Linked DNA regions of Homo sapiens: regions 1, 3, 4, 5 and 6 are each reported to be linked to region 2. The links are microRNA targets in miRTarBase. Many come from high-throughput screens and were not tested one by one. Region 2 holds a microRNA gene; each other region holds the end of a gene's coding sequence.

The links. Region 2 holds the annotated microRNA hsa-miR-29c-3p (UAGCACCAUUUGAAAUCGGUUA, at 2,286-2,307, shown strand). A microRNA usually pairs through its seed, bases 2 to 8, with sites in the 3' UTR of a target mRNA and lowers its output. Matches are read on the target gene's strand: a 7mer-m8 pairs with bases 2 to 8, a 7mer-A1 pairs with bases 2 to 7 and ends in A, and an 8mer does both.
Region 1: the mRNA of CBX2 is a reported target of hsa-miR-29c-3p. Seed matches in the 3' UTR shown: 7mer-m8 at 3,026-3,032.
Region 3: miRTarBase lists GOLGA7 as a target of hsa-miR-29c-3p. The part of its 3' UTR that is shown has no 7-base or 8-base seed match.
Region 4: the mRNA of RNF19A is a reported target of hsa-miR-29c-3p. Seed matches in the 3' UTR shown: 8mer at 2,355-2,362.
Region 5: miRTarBase lists GAS2L3 as a target of hsa-miR-29c-3p. Seed matches in the 3' UTR shown: 7mer-m8 at 768-774.
Region 6: the mRNA of GLDN is a reported target of hsa-miR-29c-3p. Seed matches in the 3' UTR shown: 7mer-A1 at 704-710.

What each region holds. Positions count from the first base shown.
Region 1 is chr17:79,784,432-79,788,521 of GRCh38, forward strand. CBX2 (chromobox 2) reads left to right here. Exons shown (of 5, transcript NM_005189.3): 5 at 1-3,552. The coding sequence ends at 611. Among named protein-coding and RNA genes, the nearest start is that of CBX2, 8.3 kb to the left of the region's middle.
Region 2 is chr1:207,800,081-207,804,171 of GRCh38, reverse strand. It overlaps MIR29C (microRNA 29c), which reads left to right and starts at 2,233; the gene lies at 2,233-2,320. It overlaps MIR29B2CHG (MIR29B2 and MIR29C host gene), which reads left to right. Exons shown (of 6, transcript NR_135299.1): 6 at 1,510-2,654. MIR29B2 (microRNA 29b-2) reads left to right here and starts at 1,649; the gene lies at 1,649-1,729.
Region 3 is chr8:41,506,455-41,510,545 of GRCh38, forward strand. It overlaps GOLGA7 (golgin A7), which reads left to right. Exons shown (of 5, transcript NM_001002296.2): 4 at 605-667; 5 at 3,130-4,091. The coding sequence ends at 652. Among named protein-coding and RNA genes, the nearest start is that of GOLGA7, 18 kb to the left of the region's middle.
Region 4 is chr8:100,254,927-100,259,017 of GRCh38, forward strand. It overlaps RNF19A (ring finger protein 19A, RBR E3 ubiquitin protein ligase), which reads right to left. Exons shown (of 10, transcript NM_183419.4): 10 at 2,141-4,091. The coding sequence ends at 3,630. Among named protein-coding and RNA genes, the nearest start is that of RNF19A, 53 kb to the right of the region's middle. RefSeq lists an enhancer at 3,706-3,805.
Region 5 is chr12:100,624,511-100,628,601 of GRCh38, forward strand. It overlaps GAS2L3 (growth arrest specific 2 like 3), which reads left to right. Exons shown (of 10, transcript NM_174942.3): 10 at 1-3,778. The coding sequence ends at 380. Among named protein-coding and RNA genes, the nearest start is that of GAS2L3, 53 kb to the left of the region's middle.
Region 6 is chr15:51,404,265-51,408,355 of GRCh38, reverse strand. GLDN (gliomedin) reads right to left here. Exons shown (of 10, transcript NM_181789.4): 10 at 356-4,079. The coding sequence ends at 3,602. Among named protein-coding and RNA genes, the nearest start is that of GLDN, 65 kb to the right of the region's middle.

The DNA.
Region 1 (4,090 bases), not on the chromosome of region 2:
CCCATGGTGCCAGCAGGGTGCCTGCTGGGTGCCCAGGCCCCCAGCCAGCACCCACCCAGGAGCTGAGCCTCCAGGTCTTGGACTTGCAGAGTGTCAAGAATGGCATGCCCGGGGTGGGTCTCCTTGCCCGCCACGCCACCGCCACCAAGGGTGTCCCGGCCACCAACCCAGCCCCTGGGAAGGGCACTGGGAGTGGCCTCATTGGGGCCAGCGGGGCCACCATGCCCACCGACACAAGCAAAAGTGAGAAGCTGGCTTCCAGAGCAGTGGCGCCACCCACCCCTGCCAGCAAGAGGGACTGTGTCAAGGGCAGTGCTACCCCCAGTGGGCAGGAGAGCCGCACAGCCCCCGGAGAAGCCCGCAAGGCGGCCACACTGCCAGAGATGAGCGCAGGTGAGGAGAGTAGCAGCTCGGACTCCGACCCCGACTCCGCCTCGCCGCCCAGCACTGGACAGAACCCGTCAGTGTCCGTTCAGACCAGCCAGGACTGGAAGCCCACCCGCAGCCTCATCGAGCACGTATTTGTCACCGACGTCACTGCCAACCTCATCACCGTCACAGTGAAGGAGTCTCCCACCAGCGTGGGCTTCTTCAACCTGAGGCATTACTGAAGCCCCGGCGCCACCAGCTGCGCGGTCTTACTCCCCTTCCCTGCCTATGGTGTCGCTTGGCTAAGTGACTCCCAGCCCAAGCCCCCTCAAGAGTCTGGGTCGGGGGAGGAGGAGTGGGTGGCCTCCTTGATGGGCAGGCTTGGAAGGGACTTCTCCCGCACCCCACTCTGTCCCAGGACATAGGGCAGGGGGCCTCACTGCCTTGTTGGTCTCCACCTTGTTCCTACCTCTGCAGGCCTCTTTGCTCTCCCCTCTTGCCTCAGGAAACCCGGTGGCACCTGTGGCTCCAGGTGACTGTCTTGAACAGAGCGGGCTTCTTCATGGCTGCGTTGTTGCTGAGTTTGAACTGCTCCTCCCTGGCCTGCGTGACTGAATCACAGCTTTGGTCCCTGTCTTGCAGGGGCTGAGGTGTCAGGAGGGGACTTCTGGCCCACCTTGCCTTCAGCCCTGGAGTGGGCAGAGAGTATTGTGGGGAGGCATGGCCAGTGGGACTAGTGTTCCCTCCATCTGGCCACAGCTTTTGGGAGATGGGGTGGGCAGGGGTGGTCCTGGCTGGCATTGCCTGAGCCGGCAGTGATGAAGTGGGGAGCTTGCCCTTGACAGGTGGGGGCTGGCTGGGGCCTTAATGTGAAAAGACAGTGGCAGGCAGCTGGAGTAGAGCGAGCCCAGCAGCCCTAAAAGGCTGCCTTCATGGCCATCTAGCCCCAGTTCAGGGCAGCATCCATAGCCCACAAGCCAGCGTGGGTGGGGCGGGGGTGGTCCCACAGCTGGGTTCCACCTGAAGAGCCTCCGTGCCTCGGAGCAGGAGAGGCAGGCTATGGCTGCCACCCTCCCTCCTGCCTGTGTCCCAGTGAGAACTGACCTGAGTCCCCTTCCAAACCCAGACCCACCTCCTGCCCCAGGCCCACTGAAGCATGTTCCATTTCTAAAAAGCCCAGAGTTCAGTGTGTCCCAAGGAAAACCCAAAGTGGAGGTGCTCAGGTCCAGGGGAGTCCAGTGGGCAGGACCCTTGGCAGGCAAGCCCCTCCCTTCACTCCCAGGACCTACCTTCTGCTAGTAAAGGACTGGCTTCATTCTAATTATGGCCCACAGACTGCCCCGGAGACCTGGAGGACAGCAGTGCTGGCACTTGGGTGTCCATGGGCCCGTCTGCCGGCTCTGCCTGTGCTGCAAGTGTTGGCCGTGGGTCCAGCCAACAACTCCCTACGTCCTGTGTGGGGCCCTGCCCAAGTGGATGAGGCATTCCTTGAGGAGTATCATTTTCCCTGACAATCCCCATCACCTTTAGGGGTTCCCTGCTTGGCTCCTTTCCAGCTGAAAAACTAGACCTGTGCCATTGGGGAAGCTGGACAAAGTCTAGGGGGCCCGCCTGGTAGAGGGTCCCGGGAAGCTGGATCTGTCAGCCTCGGCCCTGAGGCCCCTGTTAACTCAAGACTGTGAGCTGCCTCTAGGTGGTCACGTCTGGGAGCTAGCTTGTATGGCTTCTGACCAGTATCAGGATTTCTGTTCTGAGAGCAGCGTGGGCAGCAAGGCAGGGCAGCCCAGAGGTGGCAGCGGCAGGCAATCTGGTCACTAGGTCTTTGTGATGCCAAAAATAAAAGAGGGTGGGGTGGGTGCTTTCTGTTCCTCTGATTGGATGGAGTCCGCCAGCAGGCATGGGGCTACATTCCAGTGCCTGACTATAGGGAGGCACTCCTGATTCCATGGAGCAGCCCGGACTTTGAGAATGGGCTCTGGTTTGCGGGGGGCAGGCGTACCAGACTGCAAGACCCCCCAGTACCTCACCGTGCCAAATAGGAAGAGGTGGCCTTGGTGTAGCCAAATGGATCTTTTTAACAGTGTGCCTTTGGGGAGGGACCCATGTCCATGGCTTCGTTGAGGGCCATCCATATGCCAGCTGGGGGCCAGCCCACAGTGGCCATATTGGCTGCAGCAGGAATGGTGCCCACCTCGGCGAATTGAAGGGCTAAGAGTCCCAGATAGCTAGGCCAGAGCTGGAAGCAGACAGTAAGGGGAAGAGCTGCTCCCACAGGAGAGGGAGAGATTCCAGCTCACTGCGCAGCCTGGGAGGAGGCGTGGATCCTGGCACGCTGAGCCTCAGGCACCAGCCTCCCTGTGCTCGACAGCAAAGTCTTGACTCCTTCCTGCTGAGCACTGTGCTACCTTCACTGCTCCAAAGCCAGACTAACAGCTCTCCAAGCCCTTGGGGTGACTCGGCTTCCAGGAGCTGTTGGAGAAATGAGGATGTCTGTCCCTGTCTGCCTGGGCAGGCCAGATTCCTCCCCAGCAGCCGGGTCTCTCCAGACCCTGATTCGGTGCCTTTCTGTTTACCAGCTACTTCAATCCCAAAGTTTGAATCTGCAGATACCTTACTCCCAGCCACTTTGCCTTCTTACTGTGTTGTGTGTTTTTCCTGGTGCTTCAAGAGCGTGTGCAGGGCAAGTGCCGTCACTGGGAACTGCACCAGATGCTCAGACTTGGTTGTCTTATGTTTACCAATAAATAAAAGTAGACTTTTTCTATTTTTATTTGCTGCTATTTGTGTGTGTGTTTGTGTTTGTGTAGCTAGGTATCTGGCACTTCTGACGATGCATTGTTGCTTTTTTCCCGAAGGTCCCGCAGGAACTGTGGCAATGGTGTGTGTGTGAAATGGTGTGTTAACCGCGTTTTGTTTGCTCCTGTATTGAATAGGAAGCAGTGGCCAGTCTGTCTTCCTTAGAGATGTTAGCATATTTTTATATGTATATATTTTGTACCAAAAAAGAGTGTTCCTTGTTTTGGTTACACTCGAAATTCTGACCTAGCTGGAGAGGGCTCTGGGCCGAGAGCTTTCACTAAGGGGAGACTTCAGGGGAGGATCAAGCTTTGAACCAAAGCCAATCACTGGCTTGATTTGTGTTTTTTAATTAAAAAAAAAATCATTCATGTATGCCACTTCTAATTGCTTTCAACTATGGCTGTTTGCTTTCTTAAAAGAGAACAAAAGTAGATATGTTATTGCCCTAGGAAAGGATCTCTGTTGAAACAGGACAGCAGCCTAGGGCCCACATTTAATTAGGATCAACCAGTTTAAGGAAATGCTTCCCCCAAAAAGCCCCTGATGGTGTGGGGAAGGGGAATGGTGAGTTGGGAACAGGTAGTGCCTACATGACCAGATTTTACTCAAGTGCATCTCATGATTCTGTGGGTTTTCTAGCATTTTTGGAAAACTAGCATAGGTTGCAGGGTTTTTTCTTCTTTTAGACTGATGTTAATTTATTTTGCAGGGGAAGGACAGCAAATGGCGTCAGAAGATTTTTGTCCTTTTGTTATCTCTTAGTATATCAATAAATTTTTAAAAAAAAAATTTGGCCTGATGTACATCATGAGTGATCCCTGGAAACACAGTAGACTCTGCTCTTTTCCTTTCTTGAGGCAAAATAATTCGTCTGGACATAGGCCAAATACTTGGGGCACAGAAAAATCAAAGACTGGGAAAG
Region 2 (4,091 bases):
TTGATAAGGAAGAGTGGCTAAAATGAAAAGCAGAAAAGTGAGAATCTCATCAAATCCCCTCATTTGACAGGATTTGGACTCCCAGTAGTAACTGTCCTTAAACACTCACTCCTGACCTTACAACCCTGGCTGTTACCTGGTTAACAAGCCCCAGGTGTTGGCTACAGGTGTCATCACTGAGAGCCCTTGTGTGCAGATCTGCCCCAGCTCTCCCACCTGTGACTGAGGCTAGCAAGTCCCCCGTGGGCTGTAGAGCCTAGCGCTGGTGTCAGAATCGCTTGTTGCAGGTTCATCTTCAGTGTCTTTCCCACAGCCACATGCTGGGGAAAGACGGCAAAGGCGCTAGAGGAGCAGGAGAACAAAGCAAGCTGCCCCAGACCACCCGGCTTTCGCAGAACCCAGATGATGCTCCTGTCTCCCCCTAAGTATAACGTGTTATGTAGTCAGTATGATCCCATTCAGTGCAGAAGTATCGCCTAGGAATTTCCTGCCCCACCCACCCTGTTTTGTTCTTAATGAAGTTCAAGAACAAAATGAGATGATAGTCAAGTTATGGAGCAGGCTGCAGTGGATACAAGGGCAGAAACACAGTCTTTGGAGTTAGACCTGGGATCTGCATTGATTGGTTGTGTGACTGCAGACAAGTTATTTAGCCTCATTAAGGATGAATTTCTTCGCAAAAATTGGAATAATACCTGCCCCATACGACTGTTGTGAGAATTAAACACCGCAACTTTTGATGTTCAAATTCTATTTCTTCTCCTTCTAGCAACACATACTGTTAGTGCCAGGAACCATAAAAATTATAAGGCTGTATCTAGAGGCCTGAAAGGAAGCTAAAATATACAGTGTCTACTCTGTCTCTTTTCTCTTGGTTATGGTATCAGAGGAAATACACATATTTTCTTAGCTTCAAACCACCAAAAAAGATGATGCAGTAAGGAGATGGGAAATCTAATTTGGAATACAGTGTGCAAATCTTATTTTCAAGCAGACTTTGAAAATAAAACTCAATTCTTACGTTAGAGGATTATCTGCTTAATACAATTATAGGGTACCAGTTTTTGAAGTCACATCGGGGTTAAATAAGATTGCAGGTTCATGGGGTCATATTTGAATGTTCTGATACTTACATATGGGGTGGGAAGGAGGAATGCATGCTTTTCTCAAGTTAAGACACATAAAAGAGTTGTCCTGGCCCAGGTGAGACTCGCCTTTGTGTAGCAGCTGGAGCTTCATTCCACAGGCAGATAGGGTGCTTGTGTCCTGATGAAGTAAGAGAATATATCTGGAAACACTTTGTGTACTGTGAAATACTATACAAATGCAGGGCAGTACAAATGTAAATATTAATGTATTTTAGTAATAATTTTAGCTTTTATTTCATCATATATAATAATTTGTAGTGACTGGTGTGAAGTTAAATAGAATTAACCTAGAATTAATGAGTTTTGTATTGCTCTCATCTATTTGAAGCATCAGCTGTGCCTTTCATGTTGCCTTGTGCAGCCCTGTGTAACCTCCTCTGTGCCTTTCCCATGGAGCACTGTGTCATATCACAAGTAGAACTACAAGAAGATATTTCTCCTCAGGGCAGAGGCTGGGTCTTCCGATTGAATCTCCCTTCTTTCTTCATTGAGATCCTCTTCTTCTGGAAGCTGGTTTCACATGGTGGCTTAGATTTTTCCATCTTTGTATCTAGCACCATTTGAAATCAGTGTTTTAGGAGTAAGAATTGCAGCACAGCCAAGGGTGGACTGCAGAGGAACTGCTGCTCATGGAACTGGCTCCTCTCCTCTTGCCACTTGAGTCTGTTCGAGAAGTCCAGGGAAGAACTTGAAGAGCAAAATACACTCTTGAGTTTGTTGGGTTTTGGGAGAGGTGACAGTAGAGAAGGGGGTTGTGTTTAAAATAAACACAGTGGCTTGAGCAGGGGCAGAGGTTGTGATGCTATTTCTGTTGACTCCTAGCAGCCATCACCAGCATGAATGTGTTCGTAGGGCCTTTGAGTGTGGCGATTGTCATATTCTGTTGGATAACAATGTATTGGGTGTCGATTGTCATGGGGCAGGGGAGAGGGCAGTACACCTGGAGGACCATTTTGTCCACATCGACACCATCAGTCTGCTCTTAGAGGATGCCCTGGAGTATTCGGCGTTGATTGCGGGGCACCCGAAATCAGACTTGCCACCTGGACTGTCGAGGTGCAGACCCTGGGAGCACCACTGGCCCATCTCTTACACAGGCTGACCGATTTCTCCTGGTGTTCAGAGTCTGTTTTTGTCTAGCACCATTTGAAATCGGTTATGATGTAGGGGGAAAAGCAGCAGCCTCGAAGCCTCATGCCAACTCTGGGCAGCAGCAGCCTGTGGTTTCCTGGAAGATGGATGGGCAGAGAATAGGGAAGGAAGATCATGCTTTTCCCTACTAACTTCTGTAACTGCATGTATGATACATTATTGCAGAGGTAAGAGATAGTTTAATGGATTTTTAAAAACAAATTACTATAATTTATCTGATGTTCTCTAGTTGCATTTTGCTGAAATGTAGTGCTGTTCTAAATTCTGTAAATTGATTGCTGTTGAATTATCTTTCTGTTGAGAAGAGTCTATTCATGCATCCTGACCTTAATAAATACTATGTTCAGTTTATCATGTCTGTGTTTTTCATCTATTATTTCCCATTCATAATTCTGTGATGATAAGAAGTGGGTCCTGAAAAATTAATTGGCTGTGCAGATCTTGCCTACTTCATAAAGAATTTGAAGTAGGTTACAGCCAGCCAGACATTAAAAATGAAGCCCATTAAGAGAAGAATGAAATTCTATGAGCCAAGAAATAAAATGAGAGAAAAGATTAGGGAAGAGAAGAAATGTTGAAGATCAAGGCTGAGGGATGCTCCCTACTGAATGGGAAAACTCCTTAGTTCCACATGGGCTGTAGACACAGCCCTTCTGCCAGCAACTGTTCCTGCAAGGAACTGGTGCTCAACTAAACATACTGTCACATGGTTCCTTGAAGGGGCACAGCACTGATTTCACTTGCATTATAAAAGATTGAGTGGTGCTTTTGACTATTAGTTTATGTCAACACTTCAAAACAAGATGAGCCAGTTTTTTTTTGTTTTTTTTTTTTGTTTGTTTGTTTGTTTTAGACGGAGTCTCACCCTGTCACCCAGGCTGGAGTGCAATGGCACTGTCCCCGCTCACTGCAACCTCCGCCTCCCGGGTTCAAGCAATTCTGCCTCAGCCTTCCGAGTAGCTGGGATTACAGGCGTGGCACCTCCACGCCCAGCTAATTTCTGTATTTTGTAGTAGAGACGGGGTTTCATCATGTTGGCCAGGCTTGTCTCGAACTGCTGACCCCGTGATCCACCCACCTCAGCCTCCCAAAGTGCTGGGATTACAGGCGTGAACCACCTCGCCTGGCCCAGTGAGCCAGTTTTGTAAAGCTATTCAGAGATTAGCCAGATTTGATTTGATAGGGGATCAAGCTTGTAGGATCTTCAGGAAGGCGGGCTGTGGCCCCTTGATCAGGCTTTTTGCACAGGAGGTGCATGACTATGAACTACCCTCAGTAGAACTCTTTTAAGCCAGTGGCTTGCAATAAATGATGGCAAATCAGCCACCTAGGAAGCCATTTCTAAGCCCAACCCCCTGCCACAGTCTTCCTCTAGATGGCTGCCCTGCCCAGTGGGCTGAGAGTGGGGGGCGGAAGTAGCATTTGCTGGGAAGACTTGCCAGTACATATGTTGCACCCCCTCACTGCAGCTGCAGTGCTATTTCAGGCTGTTGATGGAAGAACCCATGTTCTAATCCCCAGGATGTGGTGGGAAGACCCTAAGTGGTGGTGTTAGTTAAGACCCTAAGTTATATTGTTTTGTTCACTTCCCACTGAGATAGGCTACAATAGTATTAAATACCTATAGGTCAGACATTTTTGGGGTCTGTTGTACTACCTACCAATTAAACAGTTTTTGATCCGCCCACCACGCTCAAAGCTCCAGCCTAGGTGTTGCAAATACAGACGACAGATTTTTGCTCTCAGGAGGCCCTGATTCCAGTCCTCAAACGAGTAAGTGTGAAATTGAGT
Region 3 (4,091 bases), not on the chromosome of region 2:
TTACCTTTGACATACTGTGCATATTTTTAGAGGCAGTAAGCTTTGAAAATCACTAAGTGAATTTGGTAAATAAAATTGCAAAAAACTAATTTAGCTTGATAACTGGAGTAATGGGTAAATAAATTTTTTTAAAAACCTAGGTCACATAATCCCAGGCCTTCCAGCTGATAATAATTTCAGCAGTTTTGTTATACTCTGCAACAATAGTTCTTAAACTTTCAGGGGTCATGAACCCTTTCCCAAGAAAAAAGTTTTCATATAATTTCAGGGTATTTTTAAATCCCTGAATTCATTACCTCCATGGATTCTCAGTTAAGAACTCCCTAGTTCAACAAATAAAGCATCGTTTTCAGAATTTATTTGTTTTGTTTTCAAAACATAAGTTATCAGTGTTTGGGAAGGAACTACATGTGGACTACTATAATTACATTTCTTAAAATTTTCAGCAAATTGGAGAAAGCAAACTTAAGTAGGAAAAATGTTTAATAATTGAAAAATAAAGCAAACTGAAAGCAAAGTCTGCAGATCACACCCTCCACCTTGCCAAGTCCCCCTTTGTGTGTTGTGTCCTGTAGTGTGTTTTCTTAACAGCCATGCTGTTTAGATTGAAATTACCATTTATGAAGACAGAGGCATGAGCAGTGGAAGATAAACCGAAGAATTAAAGGTAAATATGAAATGATATGGCTTGTATGCAGCTTTTGCAAGTTTAGAGGATGCATGAATATTCTTCCCCGCATGGTAAATAAATCATTAAATCACGCAGTTAAATAACAGTATATTTGCTGTGTTAGCTTAAGCTAGTCACTGTATTAGCTTGATATTTAAAATGTGTATTCGGCCCAAGTTCTATTTGGTGATAGAGAATTTAATTCTGATTTTTTTTCCTGCTGTATTGTGTTCAGACTGGTTTTGTTGTTACTTTGGTGGGGGAATGGGGGATGGCAGTTACTTGGCTTGTTTTAATATTTCAAAACTATCCTAGACATATAAATACTTGGGTTTTGCATATAAGAATGAGTTCAGAGATGTCTACCTATATGACAAATGGCTTTAATAAGCAAAGGAACATTTCAGAGGGGAGTGGGGAGATTCTGAATATTTCATTTATTATGTTTAAGTGGCTTCAGACCCCTGTGGAAGAAACCTTACCTACTGAGTAGAAACATAAATTTCATTCCTTTGTTTAAAGTATTAATGTCCTTAAATATCCAGATGCTGCCCTTTAATGAGTAAGAAACAAATTAATACTACTAAGAATCTCTAGGCAGAGTCACGTTGAAGCCCTAAGTACTTTAGCATAGCCTTCTAAGTGACAGGAAGTAGCACTTCACTATTTCTGCCAATTTTAGTTACGTGGTCTTCCTACAGAAAGTGTTCTGCTGCTGCGCTTTTCTAGTTGACTGTGCTTATAGGTATCTGTCACTAATTAATAGACAGCACAGACACAGAATGTACCAAAGCAGACACATGTCTTCCTAGGGCAACATCAATAACAGCTACCATTTTGAGGGCACGTACTATGTGCCTGGTATTGTACAAATGGTACTTCTGAATCTCACAAGAACCCTACAAAGTATTTCCCCATTTTATAGATGAGCAAACTTGGATACAAATAGATTAAATGATGTTCTCACAGTCACACAGTTAACGAGTATTGGGATATGAACCCAAGTCTGATTGATCATAAAACCCCTGTCTTTTACACCGTACTTCCTCTCAGTACTTGCAGCAGCAGGAACATGGAGAAAGGGAAGAGTTCATCAGATAATTCTAGAGGTTTATCCCCTTCTCTTCTTTTTCAATACTTTAAAAAAGAATACATTTTGTCTGCTCCTGTATGATTTATTCAATCCTGTAAGCCATGCAACATTCCAGAGCTGCCTTCTTTAGCACTAGTGAATGTGTCACCTGAATTCCTGAAAGCCAAAGATCTAAATCATGATATCTATCCTCTGCCATATGTTGTATTTCCTTAAAAAGGCTTTGTTTTGGAATACTTAGTGTTACTTGTCCATACGCTTTCTCATGTACAATTTTCAAACTGATACTTCTCAAACAACCAGCAACCTTCTGTGTGGCTTTTGTTCCATGCCATGGTTTGTATATCAGTTGCAGCTGCGATGACTTGGCACAGCCCATTTGTCATGACTCATTTTGCAGCTATTGTGTAATCATGTGTTTTTCTGATGTGTGAGGTTTGAGCAATTACACACCAGAGGCTAATCTATCAATATTCAAATAACTAGAATTTTGAAATGGGAAAGATTTACATTAATAACTTCTGGATACCCTCTTTCATGAATGCAGATATTTTTGTTCAACACAATTTCGTTTTGGGATTTGGGTGTTCCCAAGGTCCAGGATGCAATGTGAGCTGAGATCTTAGAGAAGGGGAGGAAACTCTAAGCATAATTTATTCAATTCTTCCATTTTTCTTCAGTCTGCAAGGTGTCTGCAATTTGAAGCAATATGTGGGAATTAGTGACTTAACAAAAGACTACACAAACATGAGGATGGCCTTTATTTTTAAAAGGAGCTTTAAACAAAAATGCCTTTCTTTAAGCTTAATTTTTATAATATCTTGCATATATCTTTATTATCACATTGTTATTGTTACATGCACTGGTGTTTTCTCTCTGGATTAAGATTGCCATCTTTATATAAAATGGAATACATGATTATTCCATCACAACTAGTGATAATAAAAACAGCTAATGTTTGTTGGCACATCTGTGCCAGCACTATTCTAAATGCTTAATTTTAATCATCACAACAACCCTATGAGGTAGATATTGTTATCCCTGTTTTTCAGATGAGGAAGCCGAGGCAGAGAGAACTTAAGTTGCTGGCCCAAGGACAAACAGCTAGTAGACAGCAGTCAAGGCAGCGTGGCTCCATGGTGATGTGCTTGGTCAGAGATCTGAATATATAGGACTTAGATTTGTAGACTATTGAGCTGTAGACTCATTTAGACAAATGGTACCAAGATATTTTAGTAGATAAAATTCTAGGTTAGTAGAACATAGACCACATGTTATAAGCTGATATCAGTTGATGGAAGAAAAATGGTTTTACAAGTTATTTTCAGGATCTCTATCAAACCTTTACTTCTCCCTCTAATTACAGATCCCACTTCCAGCCGGGCCCCTCATGTATCCACTGGCCGACCGCAGAGTGTCCCTACCTCCTCTCCAGAGCATCATTCCTTTCTATCTGCTGCCAGAGCCACGGTGCCATTTACTCCAAGGACTCACTTTCTAAAATTCCACACCTGGAGTGACCTCTAGTCGCTCAGCATCCACTTTGTGTCTCCAAATTGTGTAGGACTCTGTAATCTTTTGATTAGTTTCTGAGAAAACACAATGAAGCACTTCACTTTTTTTTATTCAAAGCCATTTAATAAAACACAGTTGGTCAGCCCAGTGCAAAGCTTGTTATCTGCCACCAGTACATACCATTGGTTCTCTTCATTCCTTGGGCCAGCTTCTCAGGTGGCTTTAGACCTCAACAAGCCGTATCTTCACCAGTGTTCTATCTTGTTCCCCTAAATTAATAAAATGTTTTTCTCCAGGATTTTGGTGAGGGTTGGCTGTGGCTGTCGTTTTGCACCTCCCAGATTTCAAAGAATTACTGGTTTTACCATGACTCAAATCTTAAGATCTGTTTCTACTATTCAGTTCCTCAAACTGAAGCTTATTGAAAAAAAAATGTATAATGTTATTTGTTTTATTATAGCAATTATGCCTAATTAAAGCAGTATTTAATGCAATTTCCAGTTATTTCTTTGGAGAATTTTATGTCATTGTTCCATTACCTTGAATGTTGGAAAGATATGATACGTGCTGCTTGTTCATCACAAAAATCAGTAAGCACAATAAAGTGGATGCCAAACCATCAGACACATAAATGTTCCCGCTGTGTCCCTGGATATGGAATAAGCAGGTATAAAAAATATTTTAATTATAGTTTTGTTATAAATATAACTTATGAGAAAAAAATTTGATAGGAATAATACTGTATATTACTAATTTTTAACTATCCCTAAGGCAAACCTTATGACCCACAGAATTTTCTCATATACAGTATTC
Region 4 (4,091 bases), not on the chromosome of region 2:
CACCTCTAATTTTTCATAGCAATCATCATCTGGTTATTTTACATCTCGTTCCATTATTTTAAGCTACATGCATATGTTTATTATTTTTGTATCCTCCAAATTCTAATACAAGCCCTCTGAAGCCAGGGTGTTTGTTTATTTGGTACTATGCTGTATTTCCAGCATCTACTTTGTTGAACGAATAAATTGGTAGAAGTCACAAAAATTCTGACTAGCATATGATGTACAGTGATCCAATCTGAACTAAATTTTAAAACTGCAAACTTTTTCATATCCAGCTATTAAATAATAGCCACCCTAAATAACATAACTCTCCCCAAGTTTAGAATACTATTTTTGGCATTCAAAAATCAACCAGTATGTAAACACTGGCTGTTAAGCAATGATATCTCATGCTCTAGTGAAGGAAATAAATGAAACAACAAATCCATTAAAAGGAACCATATGAAATGCAGCCTTGAGAAAAGAATTTTTTTCCTTAGATCCAAGTACAGACTAGAATCTGTAAGAAGCGTGATGACTGTGAATGGAAAGGCAAAACAATCTATGGAGCAGGAGTTTCTTTTGCTCATGTCATGTAGCAATTAATAGCTCCGATAGTTTTCAACACATACTTTATCCTTTGGTGATTTGTCTATATGTTTACCTAAATAACAGGCTAGGGAAAGTCTTACATGTTTACAAATTAACACAATTTCCAGGAAAAATAAGTTAGGAGTGGTGGATTATGTGCATTTAATATAAAAAGCTAACTAATTAAGTGCTCTGAAGCTGGGAATTTGTACAATGAAGTGAATCTACCAGTTAAATTGGTGGTCTACATAATCAACAGTAGGATATACTATTATAATCTTTGTATTTCTTTTCTCTCATTACCAGATGATTTTTCCAACAGGCTTTAAAGTACAAAGAGTTTTAACAAGATTTCAGTGAGTTAAGGTTTATTTTGAATACCCTGGAGGTATCTCTTGTTCAAGGCTAGCCCAGAGTTGAGTTCCAGGGAAAACTGGCTTGGTCCTAAATTAATCCAACTTTGAAGGATACAGGAGACAAGGAATTTCTGAAGCTAGTTGAAAGGTCCAGGAGACAAGGAATTTTTGAAGCTAGTTTTAAGGTGAGACTGAAGTGGTACTGGTTGGGAGTATCACCAGAAGTAGGTGTAGGGTGAATGAATGCACCAGCCTCCTATAGGGCACTATTTTTGCTGTATTCCTCTGAAGATCATTTAGCTTTCCATTTCATCTTTAGCCTTTTAAAGAAATGTCAACAAGGCAGTCAACATATTCATAAGATTATTTTGGCCGAGCATGGTGGTTCACGCCAGTAATCCCAGGACTTTGGGAGGCCGAGGTGGGTGGATCACTTGAGCTCAGGAGTTTGTGACCACCCTGGGCAACATGGCGAAACCTCGTCTCTACTAAAACACACAAAAAAATTAGCCGGGCGTGGTGATGTTTGCCTGTAATCCCAGCTACTTGGGAGGCTGAGGCACGAGAACTGCTTGAGCCCAGGAGGCGGAGGTTGCAGTGAGCTGAGATCGCACCACTGCACTCGAGGCTTGGGCTACAAAGTGAGACTCCATCTCAAAAAAAAAAAAAGATTATTTTCATGAAGCATTAACTATATACCAGGGAAACAGAAAAACCATCTATGCATTTTACAGAAGCTACAAGAATAGAAAGCATCTGATTACAATTAGCTTGAATTTAAATGGCTCATTTCATAATCTAATGTTGCTAGAATAGAATCTCTTAAAATAGTCTTTTAAGATCTTTTTACTTTTTTCCCCTTTTCCCAAGTTAGCTGATCTTTCCACTTTTCTGAGGATTTATAATACTGATTTCTCTTCACAATTTAATGATACATATATTTACTCAAGTTAAATTCAACCAATTTACTCAAAAAAATTATGTTGATGTATACAGTATCTTTTTTTCTGGTGGAAAGGCAGGAATTAGACAGGAAAAAAGGGTAGTTTCTAACACTGTTGAAAAGTTCAGCAAATGCTTCCCCTTGAGCTGAGACCAGAAGGCAGAATAATCACAATGGCTTGCAATATTTATGAATACTACCACATGGCCAATGAATATTCTCATTCTTATTAAAAAAAAACACTTGTGTACACACCAGAAGGCAGCAGTACATTAGTATTTACATTTATTTAACGTATGCAGTTTACACACTCATTATTAAACAAAATTGGAATGCAAACAAATATACAAATACCATAAGCATTATCAAATAAAATAACTGGCACTAGTGTTATAAGCATATTAATGGACCTGGTAGGGAAAAGTGATGGAAGAAGACTGCAGCCCATGGCATTTTTCTTTTTACCAAAAGAAAACGCTCAGTAGCACCATAATGGTAATACTTAAAAGAAATACATAAGATAGAACATTTTAACTGCTATCATTGAGGTTAACCTGCTTTTATTTAAGTGAATTATACAGGAAATTAACAGTACAGGCAGTATTTTGGCCAACTTCTGCTTATGTCAGCTGAACATTGTCCATAAACAAAAGCAAAAGAAAATAATGCTAATCATACATGGACCTTTTGTACTTGGTACAAGTTCTGCACCGTGCTTTGATTTCATGGTTGGAGAAGATATGCATGTGTTAAAAACTGAGGTTATGTAAAGTTATTCACTAAAGCCTGAGTGTGTCTTTGGTAGGCTAATACTTTTTCAGCATTATTAATCACATTCATGTTTATCTATTTCCTGTATTTTTATATATAATCCAAGGTGACCAGAGAAGACATGGAAAACAACACAGCAAAATCCTCAAATAACTAGGCCATTAAAACCCAGTCGATCCCAAAGGCACCAAGAATCAATGGGGTACAAACTTCCCCTTAGAGAAAGGTGGATTTTTTGTAATACTTATAACCTAATGGGACTTTATTTTGTAGTTTTATGTATCTTATTTGTTGCTGTCATATGCTTAATTACTTACCTTTACATTTTTTCCTCTAAGATGGCATCAACAATAAACAAGATAGAGTACCAGGTATTTCTATTTCAAAGTTGTGCAAAAACTGCCACAATCTTGCTCAAAGTGTCTAAGTATCCAAATGGTAGCAAATGAGCTGCATTAAGCTTTATATAACCACATTGCATATGAAGAAAAAAAATGAAATTTATGCCGATATAAATAGAAATGTTACAGAGTATCATATACTGAGAGTAACCTATGCAGTTCTTTTAAACTTATCTCTTTAGTGGTTTCAATAAAATATCACTAACCACTTATCCCTAAAGCCTCAAGTTTTCTTCATTTGAATGCTGTAGAATTGCATTAGTATTTTATATTGATTATATAAATTAAGACCAATTTCTATCTAAGTATGTGCTTCAAGCAATGTTTTGTGGCAAACACACAAAACATGCTTTGCTCTTCAAATTTATTATCCTTAAAATAATGCACTTTTAAAGCCTTCACTTCATAGTTTGGTAACTAAGATCCACATGACACACAATGCCTTGCTGAACACAGAAAATGTATCTGCATTATGATAATGAAACCCGGCTTTTGCTGGTAACCTGAAACTTAAGTAGTCACATGTAGTTCAACCAGCTCCAAACACGGTTGTACAGTGGTAATTATTCTGCAGCATTTATGGGCCTAAATTTCAGTCTGAATTGCAACTTTTAATTCCATTGTCTGATGTGAGTGGTTGTTATTTGTTTCTTTTAGTGCATCGCCAAAATATAAATCAACATTAGGTTTTATTCCATTGTTACCATGTTCTTCAGCAATATGATTCAACTGTGAAACTTCTGAACAGGAAGCAGTTTGGGTAACCACAGAAATGCTACACTGATGTGGGGAATTTTCCAGACGGTCATTTTCTACCTCAGGAAGAATGTTAACAGTAGCAAAGCGGGTGTGATAATCACTGGAACCATGACTACAAGAAGTTTTCATGCTTTCTAGGTCAGAACAACTAAATTCAGAAAAATGACTAGAGTGAGAATCTGCTACAGAAGGCATACTGTCACTGAGGGATGGAGCCTCAAATTCACTTGAGTTCGTGCTTTGTTGTTCTAACAACTGTGCATCCATGTCCTCTCTCGTCTCATTTAT
Region 5 (4,091 bases), not on the chromosome of region 2:
TTTCTCCTGTAAAAGCCACACAGAAATCAAAAGATAAGAATATAGTTTCAGCTACCAAAAAGCAGCCTCAGAATAAAAGTGCATTTCAGAAGACAGGACCCAGCTCCTTGAAGTCTCCTGGCCGTACCCCACTGTCCATCGTGAGCCTACCCCAGTCTTCTACCAAAACACAAACTGCACCGAAGTCAGCACAGACTGTCGCTAAGAGCCAGCATTCAACTAAAGGGCCTCCCAGAAGTGGCAAAACCCCAGCTTCAATCAGGAAACCACCCTCATCTGTTAAGGATGCAGATAGTGGAGATAAAAAACCTACTGCAAAGAAAAAGGAAGATGATGACCATTATTTTGTCATGACTGGAAGTAAGAAACCTAGAAAATAAATACATACTCATTATAAAAAAAGAGAAAAGGAAGAATGAATGTGTTAGCTTCACATCTTAAAAGTTTCTCCTATTTGTGTCTGTCTAAATAGGTGCAGACACTAAGGATAGTGAGGATGGAGGCTGGGATGAGGAAAGGGTTCATCAGAATTCACATATCTGAATTCACTGGAAAGAGCCCTTCTGAAGCAAACAGTTGTAAAATCACTGCAAGGTTTTTATTAATAATAGACATGTATATGATTTTCAGTCTATAGCATCTTTGTTAACATCTGCCTTTTGCAGGAAATGTAAAAGTTATTTAACACTACAAGAATTTTAACAATAGTTGCTCTATTTTTGAATATGTATTAAATATGGAGTTCATATACCTGCTAATATCAACGGTGGTGCTCTTACTATTAGTTAATTGCATTTTGGTTAAAAAAAAAAAAGCAACAGTTTGGCACTTGTCCTACAAAAGGCACCTAATTTAATTTTCTGATCAGGATTGCCTGATCCAACAGTGCTAAGTCATGGCTGCTGCTGACTAGCTTGGCATTATTCTGTGTTAGGTAGAATTCTTATTATTTATTTTTTTAAGCTTTCCAAATTGGAAGGAACTGATTGTTTCATGTGGCTTATATTTACATTGGTAATATTTTGTCACCAATATTTTTGGTTAAAAAAAATCCAACAAATTAACTTACTGAAATATAAACAAATTTTGTAAACAATTTTTTATATTATCTATAAAAACGTAGACACCTTATGTTTCACATGTTGTGCAATGTGACAGGGGAAGCTGATTTAGTAGCTTTTAGCATATTAAAAATAATTTTTTATAATGTAATTTCCTGTGAGTGCAGACCTGACATTTTACATTAAAATAATGTGAAACATCAGAATTATGTTTTAACAACTTTAAAATTAAGATGATGTTAAAATAATTTTAGAGTTATGCTATGTAAAAATTCTATCATGAAATTATTTTTCTCTAGATAGCACAATACCAATTTTAATTAATTTCTTCCAATTAGGTTACTTTTCTTTAATAAAGTTATGCTGCCTTCAGTTTTCCAATGGCAAGTAGACAGGATATGTTCAAGGTTTTCTGCACTGTAGGCACAGTCTCTCAAGCATATCCTGATCATGTAATGACTGCATAAACTCCATCAACCTAAGGTGATACTTGTAAATAATTTATTTTTAAGGGATGGTGACTTTAAAAATTATTAATGAACTTTGAGAAGTTTTAAGAGTGCTTTTAAAACTTCACAGTATTGCCAATTATCTTAGGTTATTCAGTATTCAGGTTTGTGTTTCTCTGTTTTAAACTAAAATGTGTTTTCTGAAGAAAAAAATAATAGTTTACACAAATGTACAATCATAGAATAAGCATTTTAAGCTGGCGACTAGTGTTCTATAGATTACAAAGCAAGAAAACTTTCTATGAAGATAAATGACCTTTTGCCTGAAGAGTACAGATAAAATCAAAGATGTGTGCAAGCTAGTTTTTGGAAGAAGTGATGCTTCTCTTCTTTAAAGAGACAGTCACCAAATACTTGGTTTAACTCGACTATTGACTTGGGCATTGAGAGAGATGATATATACATCTTTGGAAAGTGAAGTCAATGTTCAAGAGGTGATAGAAGCTTTACTTTTTAGTGATCAGAAATATTTAGTGCATCTTTTCAGACAGGAAGAATTTTATCATCAAGTATTCCCTTATAAAACCAAGTAACACTTCTTTATCAGTAACTTTTAGAACTTAAAAGAAAGCAAAAAGTAAATGGAATTGTAGGCAATTTATGAATCCTAGTAGATTTTACAATATGTAATTTATGTTGTTTACAGTATATAAACACTAAGTTTTGTGTTAAATGTGATCAGGAATAAAAGTATCCCACAGGCATCTGACACAAATTCCAGAATTAGCCAAAGAATTGTTTATTTGAGGCCAGGCAATCCCAGCATTTTGGGAAGCCAAGTTGGGCAGATCACGAAGTCAGGAGTTCGAAATCAGCCTGACCAACATGGTGAAACCTCTTCTCTACTAAAAATACAAAATTAGCCGGGCATGGTGGCACATGCCTATAATCTCAGCTACTCAGGAGGCTGAGGCAGGAGGATCGCTTGAACCCGGGAGGCAGAGGTTGCAGTGAGCCAAGATTGCGCCACTGCACTCCAGCCTGGGCAACAGAGTGAGACTCTGTCTCAAAAAAAAAAAAAAAGAAAAAGAAAAGAAAAAGGTTTATTTGAATAATTGGAAGTCAGTTTATACATTACTATTTTTCAGCAGTAGGGAATTTCTCCAATTACATTCATGTTGAATGAATTTTTATTTATATATAGCTTACCCTTCCAAAATAAAAGTGTTTTTTTAATGTTGTTTTGTTTTGTTTTGTTTTTTTCCTTTTTTGAGACGGAGTTTCACTCTTGTTGCCCAGACTGGAGTGCAGTGGCACAATCTCAGCTCATTGCAACCTCTGCCTCCTGGGTTCAAGTGATTCTGCTGCCTCAGCCTCCTGAGTGGTTGGGATTACAGGCATCCACCACCAGGCCCAGCTAATTTTTTTGTATTTTCAGTAGAGATGGGGGTTTCACCATGTCGGCCAGGCTGATCTCAAACTCCTGACCTCAGGTGATCCACCTGCCTCAGCCTCCCAAAGCGCTGGGATTACAGGCATGAGCCATCACACCCAGCGAAAAGTTTTGTTTGAATAAACAATATCCGAAAGACAATTAGTTTCTTCAGATGTATTTTGAAATTCTCCTAAAGAGCTAGTGTTTCTATTCATTTTCACAATTTAAAAACAGCTCTTAACATTGCTGAAGTTGGGAGAACTTTCCATCTCTTCTTAATAACAGTGCAAGATTTTGTAAATTCTTTTTTGTGTTTAATGTTTAATAAAACGAGTATTAAGCTTAAATTACTGAAGTACCTGGGAGAAGTAATGATGTGTACTTTCAAAAAAATGGAAAATGCTTTTATTTTATTTTCTATAATTTGTTAACATGATATGTAAAATTAAACTTCGGAGCACAATGAAATGCCGATTATTTTTACCTTGTTTGGGCTTAAAGTAGGTATTTAAGGTTTATGTGTTCAAAATGCCTTGGTAAATTGGATGACCTCTAACTTTACTGTCCATATGGAGTTTGTCATTCTTTATGGATAAGAGAACTTAAGGAAAAGTTACTGTTTTTCTTCAGTCTTTTTATATCTATCTGATTTAAAATCTGTTACTTTATTAAAAGGCTTCAACAACAGGTTGTTAGGATGTAGTCTTACATCCAGGTTCACATAATAACCCCATTTGAATCCAAATTTGTGTATATTTTCTTATGCCAGCAGTATTTGTATCCAATTTTAACTTAGGTTTGTTTTCTTGAGTATTAAAATTTAAACATATATACCAAGGTCTCAGTTTGCTTTTTTGGTGTATTCTGAATACAGTCTGATCACTTAATTCATGTTGGAAATTGCATATAGGAAGAATTCATAATTTGAGAAGAGTGCTGTTTAAAATGCTTTCTTTATATTTGTGGAATTTATTTCACTGCACCCAGGAGATTATAAGGCCTTGTCATTAATCAACAGTATTTGTTCCTCAAGTTGCTGTATATGCTGGATGTTTTTCCAGAAAGACCAGACTCACATTTAATAATGTTTGAAATAATAGAGATAATTTGTTGGTTATCAAGGTAGAATTCTATAGGTCATACAAG
Region 6 (4,091 bases), not on the chromosome of region 2:
CCAAATTCACATAAATCCAGTTTTAAATTTTTGTTCTTTCAATTTTTAGCCTCAAATATTATGTCCTCAATTGCCTTGCCCATGCTGATGAATTGGCAAAGCTTGATTGCATTTATGTCTACGTATAACCCAGTTCTAGTACTAGATTTCCATCGCTCATGTTTTCTTATAGAGAAGAGACAGTCCATATCAACAATTTTTCAGTACTGTATTCAGAAGGAGCTAGCAAATTGAGTTTCCACAGAGGAGCAACTAATATAATTCTACCACAATATTGTTTTGGATTTTTTCTTTTAAATGTTACGTATACATTAACAAGAGGTAAAAATAACAACACACTTGTTTCAACATGTGATTGTGCTCAGCAATGATTATTTTATTTGACTTGTTAAATTACAACCAAAAAGACATTCATCGTTATTCATTTGTTGTTCAGGATCTGTGCAGGTTGGAAATTATGGCTCTTAATGCTGTGAAACACAGGGCCACAGCATCTGGATGAAAACGCAAAGCCCTATCACTCATTTCTCCTTCACTTGCCATCAGATGATCATAGCCAAAACGTCCTCTGTGTGGTTGGAAGATGACACCTCACTCATCAAGAATTGTACTGTTTCATTTGACTTTTCACCTTGTGACTGTTAAGATGCCTAAGATCAGAACTCCTCATCTTAAAACTTCCACCCCAGAACTTTTTCTGTCATAGCACCTGTGCTTAACGATACTTGGAGACCAGAACCACCTACTTGGCTTCAGGAGGACACCTTATCAGCTGAAAGAAAATGCCTTGAAATAGAGTGTGGCCTAGCTTTGAGGTTGGGAGGGATGGTTTTGTTTACTTTCCAGTGGGAAGCTATCTACTTTAGATTAAAGAAGAATTAGAGAATTATCTGGTTTGATTCTGACATCAGAAGTGCAGATATTTGGAAAGTGTTTTAGAGCAACTTTGGTTATAAATGAGAGGGTAAACTCCTAAAACAGTATCTTGACTTAAAAACATTCAGTTGTATACTCTATTTTAGCAGTGAGCCCAAAACTTCTTTAAAAAATCAAGTAATGTTTACAAGAAAGAATAAAATCTTAATCCTTTTCACTTTTAAAGACAATCAGATAAGATTACCCACTGCGATTAAACACTGATCAAACTCAGTTGTCCTTACGTTAGCATTACTCTGTCATAGCAAAAAAAAAAGAAAAAAGAAAAAAAGTCCCGGTGTAAGCTTCTCCAGTGGTGAGCATGATCCCTTACTCACAAGTAAGGGAGCCCAGATAGCTCAGATATCAAGACTGAGGTTTCTGAAACATTTTTCTAAAAGGAATATGTGCTAATTAACAACCTCTTTTGGTTGCTACCTTATATACAATTAGTATTGTATGTACTATTATTATGAAACTATATTCCTAACCTGGTCTCCTGTATTCAGCAACAGCAACATATATATTTAAATACTTTAAAAGGACACCAGCACTTATTAGACATATTGATCTTGAACATGAGACTCTTTGTTAGAGAACGTGAATCTGAAAAGAGTATTTTTAAAAGCTAAGGTGACATGGTACAACCAATCTAATGAAAAGTAGGTGAAGTTTCAAATAGCCATCATATTGAGAACACAACAAACAAGTCATTGACAGCTGCCTGGGGACTTTCAGGGGAGCAGGGAGATTTGAATATTTAAATCTGTATATCCCCTAAGTTTTATTTTCTTATATTTTATTTTTTAGAGATGGGATCTCTCTAGGCTGGTCCTGAGATCCTGGCCTCAAGTGATCCTCCCATCCCTGCCTCCAAAGTAGCTGGGATTGCAGTTATGTGCCACCATGCCCAGTTCAACCCTAAGTTTTAAAATACTGCTGTTAATAATATATTGAACTCAGGGCCATTGAGAATGAATTTGGTCCCAAAGAGAAAGTTTCAGAATACACACAAATTGGGACAAGTTGCTGAAAAATCTTTACATAAGATTTGCCCTGGTTCCCCTTCCTGGCTGCAGAGCCCCAGGAACTTTTCCAGCTTCCTCTCTATTCGCAGTGGCCCTTCCCGGGGCCGCAGCGCTGGGCTGAAAGATGTTTAAAGAAGTGAGTTGGCAGAAAATATGCATATTTAAGAGCATTTAGGAGCAAGTTCAACTGGATTCTCTCCTGGCATCCAAGGGGACCAGATCACATCCTTTAAAACTATGTTAGAGAAAGAACTGTCCCCTAACCAGCCTTTGTGGAGGGCCACTTCATCTTACGCCGTTATCAGCCTTCCCCTCTACTCAAAACGCAAGTCACATCCTATGCGGCTTCTTAGTTTAGAACAAAACAAAACAGGCTCTGGTTCTGATTTTTTCAAGAATCAGGCTCACTTTATATTCTTTATCAGGAGTCAGCAATCTTTTTCCATAAAGGGGTAGCTGGTCAATATTTTAGGCACTGTGGGGCCATATGCTCTTTGTTGCAATGACTCGACTCTGCTGTTGCAGAGCAAAAGCAATGTCAGGCCGTACTGCATAAACAAATGAGTGTGGCTGTGCTCAGTAAAACCTTATTTAAAAAAACAGGCAATGGACTGGCTCTGGCCCAGTTCTACATAATAGCCACAAATGGAGCCTCTCTTCTGAACACTGCAAAGTGCTTCCCATGGTTCCAGCCAGATTAACGTCTACTTACACAGCATTTAGTACTTTGATAGTGGATCCACAGGAGAAGCATAAGAAGTCAGAGTGATCTGAGGATTCAGTGTTCATGATCCACAGCTACAAATCAACATGATCAGAAACTGGGGGGAACCTGGAAGATCATGATTCTGTTTTATTAAGAAACCTGGGCCAGGCACACATGCCTGTAATCCAGCATTTTGGGAGGCCAAGGCAGGAGGATCACTTGAGCCCCAGGAGTTCAAGACCAGCCTGGGAAACATAGCAAGACTCTCTCTCTATTTAAAATAAGAAAAGAAAAAAAATAGCTTATTGAAAAAAAAAAAAAAAAAAAAACCTGAACATGTAGCTGTCCCTGGCTTTTGCTAATCTCAGAGCTGCCCAATCAGCAGCTGAGGGTAATGGTTATTCTGTGGTGGCAGGTGCAGATGCAAAGAAAAGCAATAAATTATGGATAATGTGATACTTTAGATGTCTTAAAGAGTCAATGCATTTTTTCAAAGAACAAGATATAAGTCAGCACTGAGGGATTCACTACTCAAGCCACTGGACTTATCAACTCAAAGGTAAATTTGGTCAGCATGTGGCTAAAAAAGCTAAACGACAGAAGCAGATACATAAAAGTTGTGAGAAGAGCAGCCACCAAGAATCACCAAATTACCTACAGGTACAGAAAATCTCCCCAATCATCTTAGCCAATTCAGATTACCAATGGGGAAACTAAGGCCCAAGGAGAAAGAGGTAACTTGCAGAGCCAGCTGTGGGGAGATCACCAAATCTCAGCCATTTCAACTTCCAATCTGTTGCTATTTCACTAAGCGGGGCTCACTGACCATATAAACACTTTTGAGGTTATTTTCTAAATATCTGGCTGACGTTAAAAAAACAAGTTTCCTGTTGGGGGAGAACTGGTCCCAGAAAACCCCTGAAATTTGCTGAAGGGAGCCGAATGCAGCACATCACTGATTTAAGGTAGTTGACAAAAACTGCACAGGATAAAGCATTAAATGGCCATCTTCCCATGAATATAAATGCTGATCTCTCATGTTGTATGCTAACATGGCAAGAACAGACTGGGAAGTTCTTAAATCAAAGTTTGCATTGATCTGTTTCCCTCCTAACAAATCAAAGGCAAATGTGACCCTCATATCTTTGGTGTCTGTGACATAGAGGATTCCTCGGGCAATGAAGGCGTTGCCAGCCTTGGATTTAGGGTACGTGGTATTGACGTGTTGCACCACTGAGAATGTCCTCTCATCCAGTTGTGCTACAAGAATGCTCGAGCCGTCCACACTTGACGCATAGATAATCCAAAGGCCCTTTTCATCTACAGCTAGATTGAAGTAAGTTTTGGAATTTGCAAAAAGGTATTTTCGATCAAAATACAAGGCATTTTCAAGCTTCAGAGTTTGGGATGTTTCCTGGCCAAATTCAAATCTGAAATATGCA